2 linked regions of the Homo sapiens genome follow. The protein of the gene in region 2 interacts with the protein of the main gene of each other region in a biochemical or structural test. Each region holds a gene or a part of one and is shown on either strand. Other genes may lie near its edges.

Region 1 (10,382 bases), on a different chromosome or scaffold from region 2:
TTTATCCTACGGAAACACCCCCACAAACCCACAAAAGTGTATATGGAAGGTGAGTTCTTTGCAGTTTAATTTATTATAGTGAAACACTGCAAGCAACCCAAGTTCCTGAACAAGGAATTAGTTGGGTAAACAGTGGTCCATCCTTAAAATGGAATACTAGATAGATGTTAAATTGAATGAGGTAGAGCCATATGTATTCATCAGGAGAGATAGCCTTAGGCAAAAAAGAAACTTGCAGAAAAGTAGTGTTTCCATTTTTATAAAATGTTTAAGAAAGGCAGCCATGAGTAATCTCTGGCCAATGGATTCAGTGCTTGGGCTCCTACATTGGATTGAAAACCTTGAGCTATATGTAAAATAATTTAGGAGTCTCAATTCAGAGACTGAGCTCACCGCCTGTTCTCTCTCTTCTCTTGTATCAAAGGATAACTAAAAGTAAGTTAAACACAAATGTAAGACATCATATCTAATAGCCATGGTATGTAAATAACACTTTTGAAAAGTGACCCTCCAAGATTTAGAAAAAACATTTATCAAAGGAGAAGCATTAGGCTGGGCATGGTGGCTCACACCGGTAATCTCAGCACTTTGGGAGGCTGAGGAGGGTGGATCACCTAAGATCAGGAGTTTGAGACCAGCCTGGCCAACATGGGGAAACCCCATCTCTACTAAAAACACAAAATTAGCCAGGCGTGGTGGCGCACCCCTGCAATCCCAGCTACTCCAGAGGCTGAGACACGAGAATCACTTAGAATCCAGGAACTCGGGAGGTGGAGGTTGCAGTGAGCCGAGATCGGGCCATTGCACTCTACCCTGGGAGACAGAGTGAGACTCTGTCAAAAAAAAAAAAAAAAAAAAAGGAGAAGCATTGAAGACAATTTTTTCTTTCTTACTGGAATAATCATTTGGCTGAATGCATCTCTTATTTGTCCATTTGGATTGTATATCTTGAACTTGTGTATTCACGGACCACTGTTGAGCCTCCCCCACAACACCAGCCATAGAGAATATCTGCTACTGAGCTTTAAATTCTGGGCCTTCTCAAATGTTGAAAGCCAGGCTTGCTTTTTTTTTTTTTTTTAAATAATGACAGAGATGCCCAAAAGAAAAGCAATCCCAGTAGGAATCAGTATTCTGTGGCTTGTCACAAGAATCTTACTCCCTTTTAATTTTCCTGAGAATATTTATAATAGACTAAAGTAGATTGTGATTGTACTAGATTTTGTTATAGTTCAGTGAATCTTCTCTCCTCACTCCACCTCTACGGGAGGAGTGCACTTCTCTGCCCATTTAAGGTTGGGAAGGTTGACCATCGATCTTGCTGTGGCCGGGGGAAAGTAAGCAATGTGAAGTGAGTAGCAGCTGTAAATGTGTTTGCATCAGCCTCTTGCACTTCTGCACGTTGCCATGAAAAGAAGCTATCCTAGGAAAGCTGCTAGTCCAGGATGAGGAAACCCTGAAGCTTATTTATTTATTTATTATTGAGACAGGGTCTCACTCTGTCACCAGGCTGGAGTGCAGTAGCATGATCACAGCTCACTGCAGCCTCGACTTCCTGGGCTCAAGTGATCCTCCCACCTTGGCCTCCCAAATAACTAGGACCACAGGTGCACATGACGACACCTGGCTAATTTTTTGTATTTTTAGTAGAGACTGGGTTCCACCTTGTTGCACAGGCTAGTCTCGAACTCCTGGGCTTGTGATCTGCCTGTCTCAGCCTCCCAAAGTGCTGGGATTATAGGTGTGAGTCACCTCCCCCAGACTCCCTGGAGCATATTAAACCCAAACTATAGCCTGGAGTCAGCTCCAGCTGAGCCCAGCCAAGCCCTGCACAGCCACATGAGGCTGGCAGTCCTGTGAGCAAGTTATAAGAGTTTGTTGCTGTAAGCTTTGAGGGATGTTTGTTATTCAGTATTATTGAAGGAAAACTTGACTGATACACAGATGAACAGCCTTGGACCCATCACTCAGCTTTACTAAATCTTGTCATTCATCTCATATTTGTTTGAGATTTTTTTCTTATGAAATTAACCATTACAGAAACATTTGAGGGTCCTGTTATACCCTTCACCCATCCCATCTCTTCTTGGAAGTAGCCACTATCCAGCAGTTAGTGTTTATAATACTCATGCCTGTTTTAAATGTTTCCTATACATTTATATGCCCATAAACATTGTCTAGTATTGTTCTGTAGGTTGTAAAACTTTATATAAATGATACCAAGCTGTATGTGCCCTCTGCAATTTACTTTCCCCATAACACACACAAACACACTGTATTTCAGATTTACCCATGTTGATACATTAGCTCTAGCCATTCACTTTGCCTACGGTAACATTGTCTGTATTCACCACAATGTACCTATTATCTGTCAATGGATACTAAAGTTGTTAAATACGAACAGTGTTGCAAGGGACATTCTTACACAGTCTTTGAGTACTGTGCTTTTCTTTAAGACCAATTCTCATTCTCCGTAGAATAAGTAGACAAGAAGTGCACAGCTGATTGAAATTTCACATATACGGTCCGCAAGACCATTTTAGCAAGAGCAGAGGCACAAGCATCTCTTGCTGGAGCTGCCACCCAAAAGGAGTCTACAGTGCCTGTGGCCTTGGGCACCTCTGATGGCCTTTGCTTGTGGGACCGGTGCCTTAAGACTTGCTGGGAACATCTGGATGACATTTCTACTGCTCCCTCCACATCTTACTCACCATATGAACTTTATCATACTTTATCTTTTTGATCATTAAATGATTTCAAGTGACTGGTCAGGATTGAAATGTTGGCAAGAGAGTTAGAAACAGAGGAAGGAATGAAGACTCTGTTAATCGGCCTCCTTCCTCCTCACACAGCAATTTTTCTAACAGATGCAATTACATTTGAGAGCTGTAGAGAACAGAATCTTACGTTTTATTTCTTTATTCATCATTTTCCAAATGGTATTCACTGTAAGAAGGAAATTGCCTTTGTAGTTCAGTTCTGCAGGCTCTGTGCTGGAGTGCTCCGAGCTTCAGTTTTAACACCAGCTGCTGCCCCTACCTTGTTTCTGGTGGGTGAGAACCAGCCAGGGAGGGAGGGTAAGAAATCAGAAAGAGTTCATTTAAATTCAATATATTTTTATTCTTTGTAAATACAATGAGTACAACCTTTTAACTTCACAAATCAGTTAATTCACTTTGTACAAGAAAAGTTTTACTCATCCTATGATAGTCCAAGTGCTGAATTTTTTTTCCTCAGTGCTAGTACCTAATAAATCAAAATGTGAAAAGTACAGCAGCTATTTAAAAATGTTTGTTTCTACATTTCCATAAGTATAGAGTCATACCAAAGGAGCAGCTTAAAGTGTAGGACGGTGTGTGTGTGTGTGTGTGTGTGTGTGTGTGTGTGTGTGTGTGTGTGTGTTCATTCAAGGCTTTACTAGAAACCAGTTTTCGGAAAGGCATTGAAGAGTCTCAGGCTGTTAGCAATGGATCAGTCAAGAACCCTTTTAGCATTCATTCATCTCCTTGAAGTTCCTTCTGCAATTACGTCCATATTCGTTTCCTGTCTGGTGTGACTTGCTGCACCACGAGTTTGGACCCCCACTGCCTTTGGTTTCAGCACTATGTTAACGGGACAGCAATCTACCTCACTCAATCACTCATCTCCACTTTATTTGGTTTTGCTGTTTTTATTCATCCTCCCTTGACTTATGTTCTTTTAGTAAAGCTCTTCTCTTTTTGACATGTTATCCAACCTGAAGTCCTGGTGAGAATCTCATTTTGTCCATCAATTCCTTTGACAAGGTTGCCTGGCCTATGGTATTAAAAAAGAAGAAGAAAGAACAAAAGAAAGAGAAAGAAAAGAAAAAAGAAGATAGAGAAAAAGCAAATCACATGGCATAAGCTACTTTTCACTTATTAACTCAGTTCTGAAGGCCACTTAATAATGTATTACAATAGAGGGGAAACTTTTGATAACACTTTTAATTTAAAACCTACCATTATTTTTAAAATAAATGCTCCAACATAACGTAGTTTTGAAGGCCGCAGTACGATGTTATACACAGAGCTATATTTGGTTACCAAACTTTGTATGCTAAAAAGGAAGAGAAAGCACTACTTATGTTTCAGCTTTTGATCGTTCAGCCTGATCTTCCAGGTAAGAGGCAGAATGGCACGGCCTGTGGCAACCCCCAGTTTGCCCCCTCCCAGGGCATGGCAGCAGTGAGTTTTCAGTGCAGGCGGTCCTGTTGCACCCCTCTCCTTCCCACCCGCCCTATCCTGGTCAGGGCGGCAGGTCATAGCTACTGGAATGCTTTGTGTCAATTGGCATTTTTTTCCTGAAGGCTACACATTCCCCGGTATATGCTTCCTGAAGGGTTTGTTAGTTGAGGCTTGTTCTCCATGGGTTGAAGTTCATCTGATACTGTCCCATCCTGAAAAGTGGGTATCTTGTGAGCTTAGATATCACTGGATTTGTACATATCTGAAAGCAGTCTTGTAATTGGCACATTGCCGATGGTTTTTTTGAAAAACACTTCTTCTATAGTTGATGGGCTAATAGAACGTAAAGCTGGCAAAAGCAACAGGAGTTTTCCAAAGCGACAGGGTTGAGTGGGATATCTGGAATGTGAGAAGCCATGAAAACAAGGTCAGAGGCCATTACTTATGGAAACTAACGTCTTACACTTGAACACACATCATCTCCAGCATTGCTGATCTAGGTCTCTTGAATAACACAGTATCCCTGCAGCAAAGTTCTGGACAGGCACTGTTGTCCCCGTTTTGCAGGTAGACTACTTGAGGCAGGGAGACCATAAATGATGCTGCCAAAATCACACGGACACCCTCTCTACATTAACAAATGGATTGCATTTTGTTTGGGAAAAAAAAAGAAATTTAAGAAGCATAATACTAATTTTAAGCCAAATAATAAATTTAAGGTTTCCATTATAGAAAACGACCAGGGCATTGAGGATAAGGCTAGCAACAGAACCCATGTTTTCTAATTCTAAGGACTCCTCAAGGCTATTTCCCTCAAATAAAATGGCTTCTTTTTCTAAGCAATTCTCCAAATTATTATTCAGGCATTATACTTAGTCTCTCTCAGGAATAATTCCATCCTTATTACACTGCAAATTAAAGACTAAGTTCTGTTGGGTGGCAGTGCCACCCAACTCTCATGTCAATGAAATTGGCATGTAATTAAAGATGTGAGAAATTGCTTAACAATTTCCTCTTTTGATGTCCAACATATATCTGTGCTCAGATGTGCAAGTTCAATCTTCTGCTGCCTTTAGATGCCTGCAAGCCACCTCCTCACTGCAGCCCTGATACTTCTTCAGCCAATAGTTAGAATTAGATATCAATATACATAAGGAGAGCTCCCTCCACTGAAATGAAACACCTAAAACCTGAACTTCCGGGATACACATCTGTGACTAAGCTGGGTTCAACCCAGGCCACAAGGTGCTAGAAGCTAAGGGATATCAAAATTCCTTCGAAGGAGTCAGGTGGCTGTGTTTAACTGCCTGATAACTCCACCCTGCAAATAAAGTTCAGGGGAGCAACTTTCATGCTTGTCTAAATATTTAGCTCTGGGCACATAAGAGTCCTTCACTTCCACAGAATACAAGGCTTATAGTTCATCTGGGCCTCTCAGGACCTCAGCTGGCTCTTTCACTGCCCAGCTTCATGACCACCTGCAGATAGGGGCCACCAGACCACATCTAGTAGTGTGGTGTGGAAATGGTGAAGCTTACCTGCATTAAAAAAAAATACTTAAATCCTACCACTTGTTCTCCTTGTTTAATGTATTTCTAATGTTTCTTGGAAAGTAATCCCCAAATCCGTGTCTCCCTTTCACCTTGGCCACTTCTTTTCAACAGCTCTATTTCCCTTCCCAGGACCAGGCATAGTAGAGATAATTCTTCAGCAAGTCGGAGGCAGTGGCTGCCTGGACGACCTCTGCCATCTGCAGCATCCACCCAACATGCTGAACATTTCCCGTGGTGAGAAACCACTGTGAGAAATAATCACCTTCAGAAAGGATGAATTTGGGGGAATCTATAGACAACCAACTCCTGATTTTCTGCGATTAGATTACCCACTCATCTACTCTCCCACTTATTTTATTCTTTAGTTGGGAAAGGGTTGGTTAGTCAGTCAACAAAAATTAATTGTCTATTACATATAGCATACTGTACTACTACCAGAAACAATAGCAATGTATGAGGTCAGGTGTGGTGGCTCATACCTGTAATCCCAGCACTTTGGGAGGCTGAGGCAAGAGCATCGCTTGAGCCCAGGAGTTCAAGATGAGCCTGGGCAACATAGCAAGGGCTCATCTCTACAAAAATTCGCTGGGCACCTGTAGTCCCAGATACTCAGAAGGCAGAGGTGGGAGAATTGCTTGAGCCTCAGAGGCAGAGGTTGCAGTGAGCCATGATTGCACCACTGCAATGCAGCCTGGGCATCCAAAACAAAAACAATGTGTGTGTGTGTGTGTGTGTGTATGTGTGTGTGCGTGTGTGTGTGTGTGTGTTAGAGAGAGAAGGTCTGACTAATCAAAATTATTTTTTAGAATATCTATGCCCTTGTCTTCATCCATTAGCATCAATAATTGGATTTTCTTTTAGGTTTAAGTGTTTTAGGTCTATTACAGATTTGCATATTTGATCTTCAGTTATAGAATATAGTTTGTGTGGAATGTCAATTCCTAGCCTTCTCCTTACGTCCTCGATAATTAGAGAAATAGCTTAGAGAGCTGTAATATACAATTAGGCTCAGTTTCAGTTTGCATGTTAAGTTTTCATTTCAAGTTCAGGTTTTATTTTTCTAGACAGGAAAGTGCTGGAGGAAAAAGTGTTCACTGATTTGAAGGGCTAAGAAATAAGGCATAGTCATTTTTGTCACATGTATGACCCTAGATATAAATATTAAATTACAGCTGTAGCTGATATCAGAATGAAATAAGAATTCCATGAAATAAGAAATTCCATAATTCCATTATTTAATAAGAAATAAGATACTTATTTGATATTTACTATTCTAATATTTAATAGAAATAATAAGAATTCCATGGCAAAGCAGATGTGTTTTTTCCACACATAATTTTCTTCTTTTGCGGTGTTGGGGAGATGTACTTTACTTGCCATTTCTCTAAAATAGGCTGTTGTTAACCCATGGTTGAATTCTCTCGGGCCACCCTATCAGCAGCTCCTGGCACACCAGGCTCCCCTCCTCACTCACCTCTCTGGCACTTCCCACAGGACCCCTACCAGCTCCTCCACCACTCTCAGGACACATCTTCTCCCCTGCTGAAATCCTCCTCCCATTGAAGGACCAATTCACATGTTCTTTCCTCCACCCATCAGACTTTGAGCTTTTCTGATTGTCCCTCACTCCCTCTGACTAGGATTCATCTGTCACACTCCCCACATTGCTTTCCTCTCTTCTCTAGTTTGGATTGGAGTGACACTGCTGCCCACTTCTTGCAATGATAAGGGGCAGTGTCTTGCTCCTTCTGGTATCCCATATCGCCCACCTGCAGCCCTGCATGTGGCCAGTACTCGGCAAAGGCTTGACTGGATCAATAACTGGATACCACGTCCTTCTCATTTTTAAGTTCTTAATACCATAATGGCTCTAAATGTCAAAGGTCAGTTAGGACATACAAGTTAGTTTGTTTTTGTTTTTTTGTCTTTTTAATTTTTTTGTTTGTTTTTTAGACGGAGTCTCACTCACTCTGTTACCTGGGGCTGGAGTGCAGTGGCACAATCTCGGCTCACTGCAACCTCCACTTCCCAGCTTCAAGCAGTTCTCCTGCCTCAGCCTCCTGAGTAGCTGGGACTACAGGTGCACGTCATGACGCCCAGCTAACTTTTCTATTTTTGGTAGAGACGGGTTTCACCATGTTGGCCAGGCTGGTGTTGAACTCCTGACCTCAGGTAATCCGCCCTCCTTGAACTCCCAAAGTGCTTGGGATTACAGGTGTGAGCCACTGTGCCCGGCCTACAAGTCAGTAGAAGTACCCAGATTATGTACTGCTCCATTTAATAAATTTGAACAAATATTAACTGCCTACTATATATATTCTGTAATTCAATATGCATTTAAAATTCAAATCCTGGCATTTTAATTTGAAAAAACATATACAGGTGCACTATCTGTCAACATAGTTTCAGTGATATTCCATAGACAGGGAACAGTTTTATTCATTTAGTATTCAAAAGAGGTTTACGATAGAAATAGAGAGACTCTAGCAGAAGTGGTATCACCCCAAATGGACAGAGTTGACTTGGGATTTCTCTGACCCATTAGTTGAGGGAGGCATTAACAGCCTCTACCCATTTGATGTATTTATTCCCCCCACAGTGTCTATAGCTGATGTTGAGATTATGGAGCTGAGCTTTCACAGATTCCTTTCAAATCAGCCTAGAGAAGAGTAACTCTATTCTAACTTCAAATCTACCAGTCCTAACTCAGGAAACTAGAAAGTTTCCATTTCTCTTTAAAAGCCTGGCTTTTTTTTTAAATGGCATAATAAAATTTACACTTCTTCTTTTTTTTTTTTTTAAATTTTTGGTGGAGATGGGGTCTTGCCATGTTGTGCCCAGGCTGGTCTCGAACTCTTGAGCTCAAGTGAACTGCCTGCCTTGGCCTCCCAAAATGCTGGGATTACAGGTGTGGAGCCACCTCAGCCCCCAGTCTATACTTCTTAATGGGCTTGCCCAGTGCTGGGCCAGGAGGAGCTTTGTTGGAGCCCCAGTCTCTGAGAGTTCCTACAAACAGCCAAAAACAGCCTCTGCCTGTGGGCCCTGCATGGCCAGAAGTAACCTGGTAGATGTTATGACACAAAATAACAGATACCAGTCACCAAGGCCAAACAACAGTTATGATAGGTGAAAAGATGGCTTCTTTAGGCTGGGCACAGTGGCCCAGGCCTGTAATCCCAGCACTTTGGGAGACTTAGGTGGGAGGATCACTTGAGGCCAGGAGTTCGAGACCAGCCTGGGCAACATAGCAAGACCTTGTCTCTATAAAAAGTTTAAAAATTAGCTGGGTGTGCCGGGCATGGTGGCTCACACCTGTAATCCCAGCACTTTGGGAGGTCAAGGCAGGCAGATCACAAGTTCAGGAGTTCGAGACCTGCCTGGCCAACACGGTGAAACCCCGTCTCTACTGAAAATACAAAAATTAGCTGGGCGTGGTGGCAGGCACCTGTAATCCCAGCTACTTGGGAGGCTGAGGCAGGAGAATCACTTGAACCCGGAAGGCGAAGGTTGCAGTGAGCCGAGATTGCACCGCTACACTCCAGCCTGGGTGAAAGAGTGAAACTCTGTCTCAAAAAAAAAAAAAAAAAAAAATTAGCTGGGTGTGGTGGCATGCACCTATAGTCTCAGCTACTCAATAGGCTGAGGTGGGAGGATCACATGAGCCCATGAGTTCAAGGCTGCAGTGAGCCATGCTCACATGCCACTGCACTTCAGCCTTCCAGCCTGGGCAACAGAGCAAGACCCTGTCTCAAAAAAAAAGATAGCCTCTCTGGAAAGTTCTCTCATCCTTTTATTTGAGATTGGCATCTGAAGAAAGTCACCTGTGTTTTCTCAAGGATGATGTGGCCACTCTCTCACATACCAACCATTACACTTTGAGCTTCTTTTTTTTTTTTTTTTTTTTTGAGACGGAGTCTCGCTCTGTCGCCCAGGCTGGAGTGCAGTGGCACAATATCGGCTCACTGCAAGTTCCACCTCCCAGGTTCACGACATTCTCCTGCCTCAGCCTTCCGAGTAGCTGCTGGGACTACAGGTGCCCACCACCACACCCAGCTAATTTTTTTGTATTATTTAGTAGAGACGGGGTTTCACTGTGTTAGCCAGGATGGTCTCGATCTTCTGACCTCGTGATCCACCCACCTCGGCCTCCCAAAGTGCTGGGATTACAGGCGTGAGCCACTGTGCCCAGCCTAGGCTTCATTTTTGACCCCTCCATACCCATTCACACAAATGTTGTTCCATTATTTTGATGGATCAATTTGTTCCGCCAGGACAACTGTAATATGTCTGGCAGTGCTTTCACTTTGATCATCTAATTAGATTTGCTCCTCTCACCCACCCTGAGAGATAGGTAAGGACATGGATTCTCCCTAAATTAACTGGCTGGCAACAAGATAATTAGTCACAATGTTTGAACTGGCTTATTACCGCCTGCTCAGGCATTCACAATGGAGGCAATTTTCTTAAGTACATGTTCAAGGCAAACAAGGGTCACCTGGTATGGATGTAGCTGTTGAGCGTTAGCTGAGCCTCATCTTGAAGGGCTGCAATGGCGGCAGCATTCCGGAAACTTCTCAGTTCAGAACCACTATGTGTAGGAACTAGAAATGAAGACCAGGAAACT
Region 2 (11,098 bases):
TATGTTCCTTTAGGGTATAATACACGCATCAGAATGCCCATAGAAATAATCCTGAAAAAGACTGACTGGCCTTCTCTTAAAACCTGTTATTTTCTTGCAAGTAATTTACAGAGTGTGTCAAATGAGGACACAAGAAGCTTACAATGTGTACTTTAATTTTTTTTATTTTTTCAATAAAGGGACAAAATGGGTGTATGAACAGGTTAATGCAGACAACTGCCAAAAAAACACAGACAGTGGTTTTTCCAATAGAACTTAACAAAGACCAGAAACAAATACAATAAAAAGCCAGGTTGTAATGACCTTTGGTCATCTAAATAAAAAAAAAAATAAAAACAAAGAAAAATAAAAGATCAAATTAAGTGCCTCTGTTTTGAACAGGGCACATAAGCAATAATAAATAGTGACTCCCATAGTAAAAGATAAAATTTCAAGTTACGACAAACAGCTTTCATTACAGGAATAGAAAAGGCCAATAACAAAATATTCTGCATTGCCATTTACAAAAAAGTATTGACTAAAGCGGGCTTTCTCTTTAATATGCTTTGCATATGAAATTCTTTCCAATCTAAATATAAAGCACCATTTAGTTTTTGGCAATGAAAAAAACTGCAAAACATTGGTTTTTTTTTTTTTTTCCTTTTTTTTTCTTTCTTTCTTTTACTGCATATGAAGGTAAGATGCTGGAATGTAGGGTGATAGAAGGAAAGGGACAAAAAGCACACTACATAACAAACCAACGTTATTAGCTTGCAGTACTGCATACAGTATGGCAGCAGGAAAAAGGAACAAAAAAGGATATGTACAACCCCTATGACAGCCATCCATGTGACATTCTAGCAGGCTCCCCCAAACCGCCATTATATGGCTTCTCATCTGTAATGTCACACTTTTTTGTTTCTCTCTTTTTTTTTTTTTTGAAGCATACAAATAATTTGCACTATATTATCCTGCCAAATTAAAAAAATATACTGTGGCAGCCTGTCTTTTTTTTTTCCACTACCAAAAAAGGTACATTGATACCTTTTAAGAGAACAAGCAACAGTTAAAAATACAAGCTTCAATATAAATACTATAGTGCCTAACACTAGATGAACATTTAATTCAAATACCATTCTAGAAATACAGAAAAAAGACCATAAATGTATTTTAGCATAGGAATCAACATGAGTGTGCATTTTCCTATATTTAAGTACTATATAATCTTAAACCTTTCCCCAATGTATGTTTTTTTTTTTTACAACCTGAAGAGCGGTGTGTATCCAAGGCATAGAATTTCCACTACCATTTTTAAATGGATAACAAGTCTTGTAACACCACCAAGACAATGGAACCCTAAAATGCAGTTCCCCCCTAAACATAATGAAGTGTTTTTTAAAAAAAATTTTTCTTAACATTTATATTTAAAAAAGTTTTGTACAAAAAAATCCTTGCACTGTAGAAGCGAAAGCAATCATTCATTTCTATGTTAAGTGTATTCTGTTTCCATTCACAGCGCTTGCAATGTTGCGTCCAAGTAAGTAAGCTCAATAGTCAAGTAAATGGCTGGCAAAGTTTTTTTTTTTTTAGTTTTTAAAAAATGCTCCTCAATGAGATTGTGTTCAATTTTTTTTCAGCATTCTTGCAACTTTTCCCTTAAGTATAGACCTGTAAACTGGGAAAATTGTACAGTGCACTTAATTGTCCTATCTGAGCAGGTTTATTTTATACTCAACCTCTGTATCTCTGATTAGAGAAAAGATACAGATATCACAGGCAGAGTCAAGTGCTATTTGAACACCAACTGGGGCAGATGCTAGCTTAATAAAAAAGAAAAAATTAAAAAAATAAAAATAAAAACAATGAATCCTCTTCCATGTTAACACAAATAGCACACAGTGTATGGAAAAGAAATGAAGTACAACTTTTAGGGAGCACAGACATATATACTGCTACTCTTAAAATTCTTTCTCTTCTTTTTTTAAGAATGTCACATTTAAATGCAAGTCTTAAGAATTCATAGTTAATCATCATTGTATCAATATTAGCTTATATACCTGTTCTAGTTTTAAATGGCAAATAGTACCACGTTGTGCTAATAAATCATATTATTTTCTTCTGTTCCCCTCTGTCAAACCTTATTGTCAGCCTCTTCCTTTCAATATGGTATACAAGGTCTTAAAGTTTATCATTTGATTGTCCACTTGACAACCAAGTAGATCTGGATCTATTTCTTTTGGTGCCAGTATTTTTAAAAAGACATTATTAAAGCAAATATCTTCATAAAATGAACTCCTTACTAGTGTATTTAATTGCGTTCCAGGGCTTTTGCACATTACACATTCAATTTAATCATTGTTTAAAAAAAATAAAACTTTGGGCAAAACAGCCCATTTCTTTTAAGCTCTCACCAGGAGCAAAGTAGCTTTTATACTGGTATAATCAGTTTTGTTTATAAAATTAAACTAAAGGAAAAATGATGATTAACTAGGACATAATGGGTCATCTTTTTAGGTAGCCATTGTTGTGAGAAATACAATATAGAATTATATGCTAGTTCCTAAGGTTTATTACCTCACCCAATGCTGAATTAAGCTACAAGTTTATAACAAGTAGAAAGAACCATCGATGTGGTTTTAATAGATCCAAGGCACTCATATTTTAAAACCAAATGATAGAATAAACTTGTTCTGTTTTTCTGTTAATTTGTCAATTCAAGGCCTTTTTTCTTCCTTTCCAATTGATACATTTAACCCTTTAGAGACAGACATTTAGCTCATAGAGATTTTTTTTCAGTGCTATCTATTCTGTCTATAGAGGGTTAATCCAAAGACTGTTTTTCCTCCTCACGTTATAAAATAAAACTGTACATGATATGTATTACAGAATGTATGCAGCATGGTCTTTTTCTCTCTCTCTCTCTTTTTCTCTCAGAACGGAACTGGAAACAGCAACATGTTTGCTCAGCAACGAATTAGGGACAATTTAAAATAGCCATAACATACCATACATGCTGTCTAAGTTTAAAAAAAAACATACACAACATGTAAATTATTGCACAAGAGAAAGGCTCAAAGTTTGCGTAAAATGCAATAGTATTGCCCCATACAGATCATGCATTCAAACGGTGAGAACATAAAGGAAAAAAAAAAAAAAGGAAAAAGAAAAAAGAAAAAGAAAAAGAAAAAAAACAGGTGTGCTGGTGACAAGCACTCTCATATTCTTAGCTTCGTTACTTCTGTTTGTTTGTTTGTTTGTTTAAATCACATGGGACTAGAAAAAAATCCTACAGGGAGTGGGGCTGGAGGGCGATGGGGAAGGGGAGTGGTGAAAAAGGGGGTGTCAGGTGGGAGTGAGGGAGGGGTATTAATATACCTCTATTCAGTTTTTATATCATTATTCAACACTCGATCACTGTGCCATTTTTTCATGTGTTTCTCCAGGGTACTGTACACGCTAAAAGGCATCTTACAAATTTCACATTTGTAAACGTCCTTCCCCACCTGGCCATGCGTTTTCATGTGCCTGGTGAGCTTGCTACTCTGGGCACAGGCATAGTTGCACAGCTCGCATTTATAAGGCCTTTCGCCCGTGTGGCTTCTCCTGTGGACAGTGAGATTGCTACAGTTCTTGAAGACTTTCCCACAGTACTCACAAGTGTCGCTGCGTCTGCCCTCTTTTGAGCTGGGCCTGCCCGGGCCCGGACCACTAATATGGGGCGTGCTCCCTCCACTTCCCGTGCCGCTGCGCCCCGAGATCCCTCCGTCCAGCTCCCCGGGCGGTGTGGAGAAGCGCAAACTCCCGTTCTCCGAGGAGTGCTCCGACGAGGAGGCAAAAGGCGATTGTCTGGAGTCTCCGAAGCTAAGGAAGGGATCTTTGAGCTGCCTGGAGGCCGCGTAGCCGGCGAGCCACTGCGAGTACACGTTCTCCGTGTTGGGCATCGCGGCCGGGGGCAGGTCGAACTCCTTCTCGAGCTTGATGCGCTTAGAGAAGGGGCTCAGCGAGCTGGGGCTGCCCAGCAGCAGCTTTTTGGACAGGCCCCCCGAGGCCGACTCGCCCGGGGAGCAGCCGCGGCCATTAACAGTGCCATCGTCTATGCGGTCCGACTCGCCGGCCACCGAGTCTTCGTCGCAAGTGTCCCTGTGGCCCTCGGCCTCGGCCAGGTGGCCGCGCTTATGCTTCTCGCCCAGGACCTGGTGGAAGGCCTCGCTGAAGTGCTGCATGGAGCTGAGCACCATGCCCTGCATGACGTCGGGCAGGGCGCGGCTCTCGTCGCCCACGCCCACGACCGCGCCCCGCGAGCTGTTCTCGTGGTGGCGCGCCGCCTCCAGGCTCAGCCCGAAGCCGTAGTCCACCCTCTCGCTCTCCGTCAGCTCCTCCTCCTCCTCTTCCTCCTCTTCTTCCTCTTCCTCGTCGTCCTCCTCTTCCTCCTCGTCCCCGTTCTCCGGGATCAGGTTGGGGTCGTTCTCGCTCTTGAACTTGGCCACCACGGACTTGAGCGCGCTGCTGGCGCTGCCCACCAAGTCGCTGGTGCCGGGTTCCGGGGAGCTGGCGGTGGAGAGACCGTCGTCGGACTTGACCGTCATGGGGGACGATTTGTGCATGTGCGTCTTCATGTGGCGCTTCAGCTTGCTGGCCTGGGTGCACGCGTGGTCGCACAGGTTGCACTTGTAGGGCTTCTCGCCCGTGTGGCTGCGCCGGTGCACCACCAGGTTGCTCTGAAATTTGAACGTCTTGCCGCAGAACTCGCATGACTTGGACTTGACCGGGGGCTGGGAGGGAGGAGGGGCGGATTGCAGAGGAGGGAGGGGGGGCGTCGCCAGGAAGGGCGGCTTGCTACCTGGCTGGAATGGTTGCAGTAACCTTTGCATAGGGCTGGGCCGGCCTGGGGACAGCGGTGGGCTAGACGTGTTCCCTGCCAGCTCTCTAAGTCTCCTAGAGAAATCCATGGCGGGAGGCTCCATAGCCATTGGATTCAACCGCAGCACCCTGTCAAAGGCACTCGGGTGATGGGTGGCCAGGGCCATCTCTTCCGCCCCCAGGCGCTCTATGCGGTGGGGGTCCAAGTGATGTCTCGGTGGTGGACTAAACAGGGGGGGAGTGGGTGGAAAGCGCCCTTCTGCCAGGCCGGAAGCCTCTCTCGATACTGATCCTGGTATTCTTAGCAGGTTAAAGGGGTTATTGTCTGCAATATGAATCCCATGGAGAGGTGGCTGGGAAGGACATTCTGCACCTAGTCCTGAAGGGATACCAACCCGCGGGGTCAGGGGACTTCCGTGTTCGCTTTCTAAGTAGATTCTTAATCCATGAGTGTTCTGTGCGTGTTGCAAGAGAAACCATGCACTGGTGAATGGCTGTTTGCAAGTTGTACATGTGTAGCTGCTGGGCTCATCTTTACCTGCAAAATAATACAACACCAACATCAATGTTTAATCACTGAGGCGGGCATCAGCAATTGCTTATTTATGTTCCACCTCCAGCCTTCCCTGCCCCCACCCCTCAACCCCAAGGCCTAAGCCCTCACTGACCTACCCCCTGTGCCTGGCACGTCTGAGCATGGGTACCCAGTAAATATTGGTCCAATTGATCTTCCTGCCATTAAACTCAGTTCTAGAAATTTTATATCCAATCCCCAAAGCAGAAAAATCCTGACCAGTTCTGGCTTGAGGATGAAGGTCCCTACATTCTAGGCACCTCAACAAATGTCTTCTAAACTTTCCAGTTCCATCAGCTGTAGTTTGGGGCAAGCCATCTCATCTCCATGTGCCTCTGTTTCCTCCTTGTTAAGTGAGAAACTTGGACAAGGTGACCCAAGGAAACTTTTTGGCTTCCTAAATCCCAGCTTTCTATTCCCCCCTGGGTGACAGGTGAACTTTCTAAATAGGCAAACATTTCATAGAGGTATCAAAAAAGGGGAAGAAGGTCAACTCACTACAATGTTCTATGGCCCTAAAGATGCTTTCAGCATTAGCCTGAAACACACTAATTGTTGATATTGTTAAAATGAGAGGGTACTCATAAAATACTTCCGTGGAAAAAAGACTAGCAACATTCTCACACCCCAGACTGTGGGAGGATCAGTGAGTCCCAATTTTGGTTCCACAACACCCCATGGGGACGTCCATTTTTATCTCAAAGAATGTTTAAAAAATCTGAAAGAAAAACTTCATTCAGATTTAACGGATAGGCTGTATCCAATCTTTAGGAGTTGTCCCCCGGTCAGACAAATGCAAGTCTGGAAAAGTTAGGAGGAGTGGCTGGTGCCGACTTAAGCAGACACAGCATCCTAGTTTAAGGAACAGTTAAAACAGCCAGCGCCATGACAGGCAGCAGGCTGAGAAATGCTACACTATCCTCCTCCTCATTGTTTTGAGAGGCTAACAACGTGAACCAAATTATACAACATCCTGCGCCCTCGGCTGGGACTCAGCTCCAGTTGAGAAAGAAACAGAAAGATACAGTTCAGCTAGTCAACTCTGGCCAGTAGCCAAGCCGTCTGGAGAGGGGCCCTGCTTAAGTCACATTATTTCCCTTGCTGAAAAGAACCCAAGAGTGGTAAATGCCACTTTGGCAAAGAAGGGCCAGCTTGACTTCACAAAATATTTCATTTGGGGAGATGGCTAAATTAAATATATATGGGGAGATAGCTACATTAAATATATATATATATGGAATAACTGACCAACAGTTTACTAGTCAACTGCAACATTAAAAAGGGCAGAAGTAATGGTAGCCAAAGGACGAGGATGAGAAAAACAAAACTTCCCAGAGATTCTGAAAAAAAAAGCCTTAAAATATAACTGAGAAATAACAAACTTTTCTCCTTCTTTTAAAAGAAGGGCTGCAAGAGTTCTTTAAGGCCACAGCTAGTATTTGTCAGTAACTTTCTAAGAAGGAAAAAAAAAAAAAATCTACCAGGGAGGTTAAGAGTGAGAATGAGGAATTAATCAATTATATGATGCCTCCATTTAGCAAGTCAGAAAGAAAAGCCGGCAGGGTCTTCTCAGGAGCCCCCAAACACTGGTATTCCAAAATAAGCCAGCCTCGCTCAAGCACTTGTCTAAATAATGGACTCCTGCCCTGACCTTGTAATTTACTTTACAACGCATTTATAATCCCACTCAATATATCTCACTCCTGGGTAAATCTCTTAAACAAGATTAGATGGTAAGATACCAAAATTAGGTTTCAAACATTTGTCTAATGTGGAAGGGGGAAAAAAGGCAGAAAGATTTTGAAAGAAAACGCTGACATTAGTATCACATTATCTGCCTATTTTTGTTTGCCTCCTCTCTTCAAAGGGAAATAAAAAGCTTCATTGAGAACATTTTTATAAATTTTTTGTTGTTGTTGAACAATAACTTGGGTCCCAAATAGGCTGGAAAAAAAACTATCTGGTTCCAACTACATGATCCTCTGTGGCTTCCTCCTTGTCCTCCCTAGATCTCTGGGTGACTATCATTCCTATTTAGCCTGACGATCTGAGTTGGGCAAGTAAAAAGATTTGTCTGATAATCCAAGTCCTTAACACGTTCATCACTCCAAATGCCTTAAAATTATATTTTACCTTATAAAACATCGATTGAAATCCAGGACTAGACTCATAATTAGTGGTGCTGGTTTCACATGTGCCATGAATTGTAGTCATTGATAAATGCCAAAATCTGTGGCATACAGCACTACATCAAGGATCTCATTTGTATCCTTTCAAAAAGGCTTAAATGAGAAAAGTCCATTTTATTTTGCTGCCCTGAGCATCCTAAACTTTTTTTCAGAGCCAGTTATGTGATCATGCTACAGTATGTTAACACTGTGATGTTATCCTCCCCTCTCTCTCATACATCAGGTCAGAGAAAATGGCATTTTATCTTATAATGAGCATACAACATACAGTTTTCACTATCGCATTTTAGTATTCCCATCAACTAGATATTCTAGATCATGAGGGCAGCTAGTGTAATCATAATGTCAATGAGAAGGGCTGTTACGATTGAGACTAAAGATTACATGGAGAGAGCTGCTTTGAAACTGGTAATTATTACCAGTCCACTAATAGCAAATGATGCATTACAATTTCACCATATAATCTGTATTTCACTCAGCTCATGCCGGTGTACCATATTATATTACAGTGCTCACAGATTCTAAATTCCTAAACTGCAGTCATCAATAAATGTGTTACTTGCCATAATTTGTGAAATTACTTTGTTCATAACATCTTTGATGATTTAGAAAGACTGGAATTGATTTCCTGTGTGGCAAAATTAGGGCTACATTGATTTATTGATGTGTAAAATATAATAATATTCTTCATTTACTCTGATGAAAATCAACTTCTCAATTTGAGAGCCTCATTGGGCATTTACGGGGATTGTTTTGATTTAGAGCAATAAACTGACACCTGGCCCCTAAGCATAGGAACTTGAGACATCAAAAGGGTTAAAATCAGCTATTAGCCCACCTACTGGCTTTTATTTTATTTCATTTTACTTTATGGGAAGGAATGACCCCCATTTCTAGTATGTCACCAATGTGAAAAAGTCATGTGATCTAAGCCTCAAGATTCAGAAGAACAAGGAGGTCTGAGACTGGAGGCCTAGCTCTATTATCCACTAGATTGTAACTCTGGGATAGTCATTTGATTTCTCTGAGTCTTGGAATTCCTATCTGTAAAATGAGCATAAAAACAGTACCTGTAAGAATTGTTGGGAAGTTCAAATGACAGAAGTATATAAAAGCCCTCTGTAAACTATCAGGTCGAATGTGAATGTGAGTTTTCATTACTACCAGGGGTGATTAATTACTGAGGGTAATGACTAACCACATTACACACCCCGAACGGCTTCCAGAGGAAGGTCCCAGTCCAGGCCTTAACCCAGGCCAAAAGGAGGCTCTAGTTAAAGAGCAGGGGTGACTGGCACACAGCAGAGTGGCCACAGGGAAGTGCTATGAGCTCTGGAAGCCAGGGGCAGCAGGTTAATGCCGCCAAGTGGAATGGGCATCAGGTTTGTTCTAGAGCTTTCTGGACCCCCACAACCCACTTCCACATACCTTGTTCTGGTCACTCCTAAATTGGTCCTGCCAGCAGGGGCACCAGCAAACTATGTACCCTCCCTTTGTGGGAAGGTGGGAGAGGACAGGGGTTCCCTATCAAGCTCAGACTTTCCTACCAGTCAAATCAAACTCCCAGCCCTCAGGAAGACCAGGCTGAAGACCGAGAACTATGTTTCCCTGGCAACAGCCCTTGGCCTCTCAACTCCACCCTCCTCTGAACTGCTCAACTCCCTTCTATCCCTTCCCTCCAAAAGTGGCTCCGTTTCCACAGCCCCATGCAGGCCCCAGATGCCCCCAGCAACAGGAGAGCTCTCCCCACCCAGCCAGCATGCAGGGACTAGAAACCGTGAGCCCAACCTCCTAAACCTTCTGCAATCTGTGACCTAACCCAGGCTTAGGCCCAGCTTGGGGGAAGGGAGCAGATGAGGTGCTTTTAACCCCTGAACCACCCAGCCCTCAGGACCTGAGGGCTTATGAAATTCACACAATAACTCTTTGTTACCTAGGATTACCTAGGAGTTAACAAAAATAAACAACTGGCTTTGAATCTGGTCTCAGGGTGCATGCCCTGCTCTTCAGATACCATTTACAAGATGGGTAAGTGTCATCTCCCTCCCATCTAAAAACAGTCCCCCTTAGAGCCTTAACTCTGGCATCTTGCTCTTTGTTATTCTCTCTCCATGACCTTTTTCCTTTTCTTTTTTTTTCTTTCCACAGCAGGTTATTTTTCATTTACTTTCAAATAAAAATTAGATGTCACACTTCTTTTCTTCTTGAACCTGCTTTTTTGTGTTTAGGGTGGAATCACTGCCCACCCCCTAACCTTTTAGCCATGCATGATTCATACCATGTGTTCCTACACAGAGAAGCAAACTGTATTATTTTCTAAAACAGTATCTTTCAGAAAACATTTGTATAAATGGACAAATTTAAGTTTCATAAAATGGTCCCTACTATAAAAGCTCACTTGAACAAGTAAATGGTGGTGGCAGTGGTGGTGGTGGTGGTGGTGGTGATGATGGTGGTGGTAGTGGTGGTGGTGGTGGTGATGGTGGTGTTGGTGGTGATGGTGGTGGTGGTGGTGGTGATGGTGGTGGTGGTGGTGGTGATGGTGGTGGTGATGGCGGTGATGGTACTGGTGATGGTGGTGGTGGTAGTGATGGTGGTGGTAATGGTGGTGGTGGTGATGGTGGTGGTGGTGGTAGTGATGGTGGTGGTAATGGTGGTGGTGGTGATGGTGGTGGTGGTGGTAGTGATGGTGGTGGTAATGGTGGTGGTGGTGATGGTGGTGATGATGGTGATGGTACTGGTGGTGATGGTGATGGTGATGGTACTGGTGATGGTGGTGGTGGTAGTGATGGTGGTGGTAATGGTGGTGGTGGTGATGGTGGTGGTAATGGTGGTGGTGGTGATGGTGGTGATGATGGTGATGGTACTGGTGGTGATGGTGATGGTGATGGTACTGGTGATGGTGGTGGTGGTAGTGATGGTGGTGGTAATGGTGGTGGTGGTGATGGTGGTGGTGGTGGTAGTGATGGTGGTGGTAATGGTGGTGGTGGTGATGGTGGTGATGATGGTGATGGTACTGGTGGTGATGGTGATGGTGGTGGTGGTGGTGATGGTACTGGTGGTGATGGTACTGGTGGTGATGGTGGTGGTGGTAGTGATGGTGGTGGTAATGGTGGTGGTGGAGATGGTGGTGTTGATGGTGATGGTACTGGTGGTGATGGTACTGGTGGTGATGGTGATGGTGGTGGTGGTGGTGATGCTACTGGTGGTGATGGTACTGGTGGTGATGGTGGTGGTGGTAGTGATGGTGGTGGTAATGGTGGTGGTGGTGGTGGTGGTAGTGATGGTGGTGGTGGTGATGGTACTGGTGGTGATGGTGGTGGTGGTAGTGATGGTGGTGGTAATGGTGGTGGTGGTGATGGTGGTGGTGGTGGTAGTGGTGGTGATGGTGGTGATGGTACTGGTGGTGATGGTGGTGGTGGTAGTGATGGTGGTGGTTGTGGTGGTGGTGGTGATGGTGGCAGTGGTGGTTGTGGTGGTGGTGGTGATGGTGGTG

Evidence for each region.
Region 1: the proteins of BCL11A (region 2) and NR2E1 form a complex in vitro, tested with the Homo sapiens proteins (one study listed by BioGRID).

Annotation. Positions count from the first base shown.
Region 1 is NC_000006.12:108,181,523-108,191,904, reverse strand, and holds the end of NR2E1 (nuclear receptor subfamily 2 group E member 1), read right to left. Parts: intron 10,360-10,382; coding exon 10,254-10,359; intron 4,605-10,253; coding exon 4,442-4,604; 3' UTR 3,100-4,441; downstream 1-3,099. UniProt on the Homo sapiens protein: Orphan receptor that binds DNA as a monomer to hormone response elements (HRE) containing an extended core motif half-site sequence 5'-AAGGTCA-3' in which the 5' flanking nucleotides participate in determining receptor specificity.
Region 2 is NC_000002.12:60,457,048-60,468,145, forward strand, and holds the end of BCL11A (BCL11 transcription factor A), read right to left. Parts: intron 5,378-11,098; coding exon 3,357-5,377; 3' UTR 147-3,356; downstream 1-146. UniProt on the Homo sapiens protein: Transcription factor. Associated with the BAF SWI/SNF chromatin remodeling complex. Binds to the 5'-TGACCA-3' sequence motif in regulatory regions of target genes, including a distal promoter of the HBG1 hemoglobin subunit gamma-1 gene.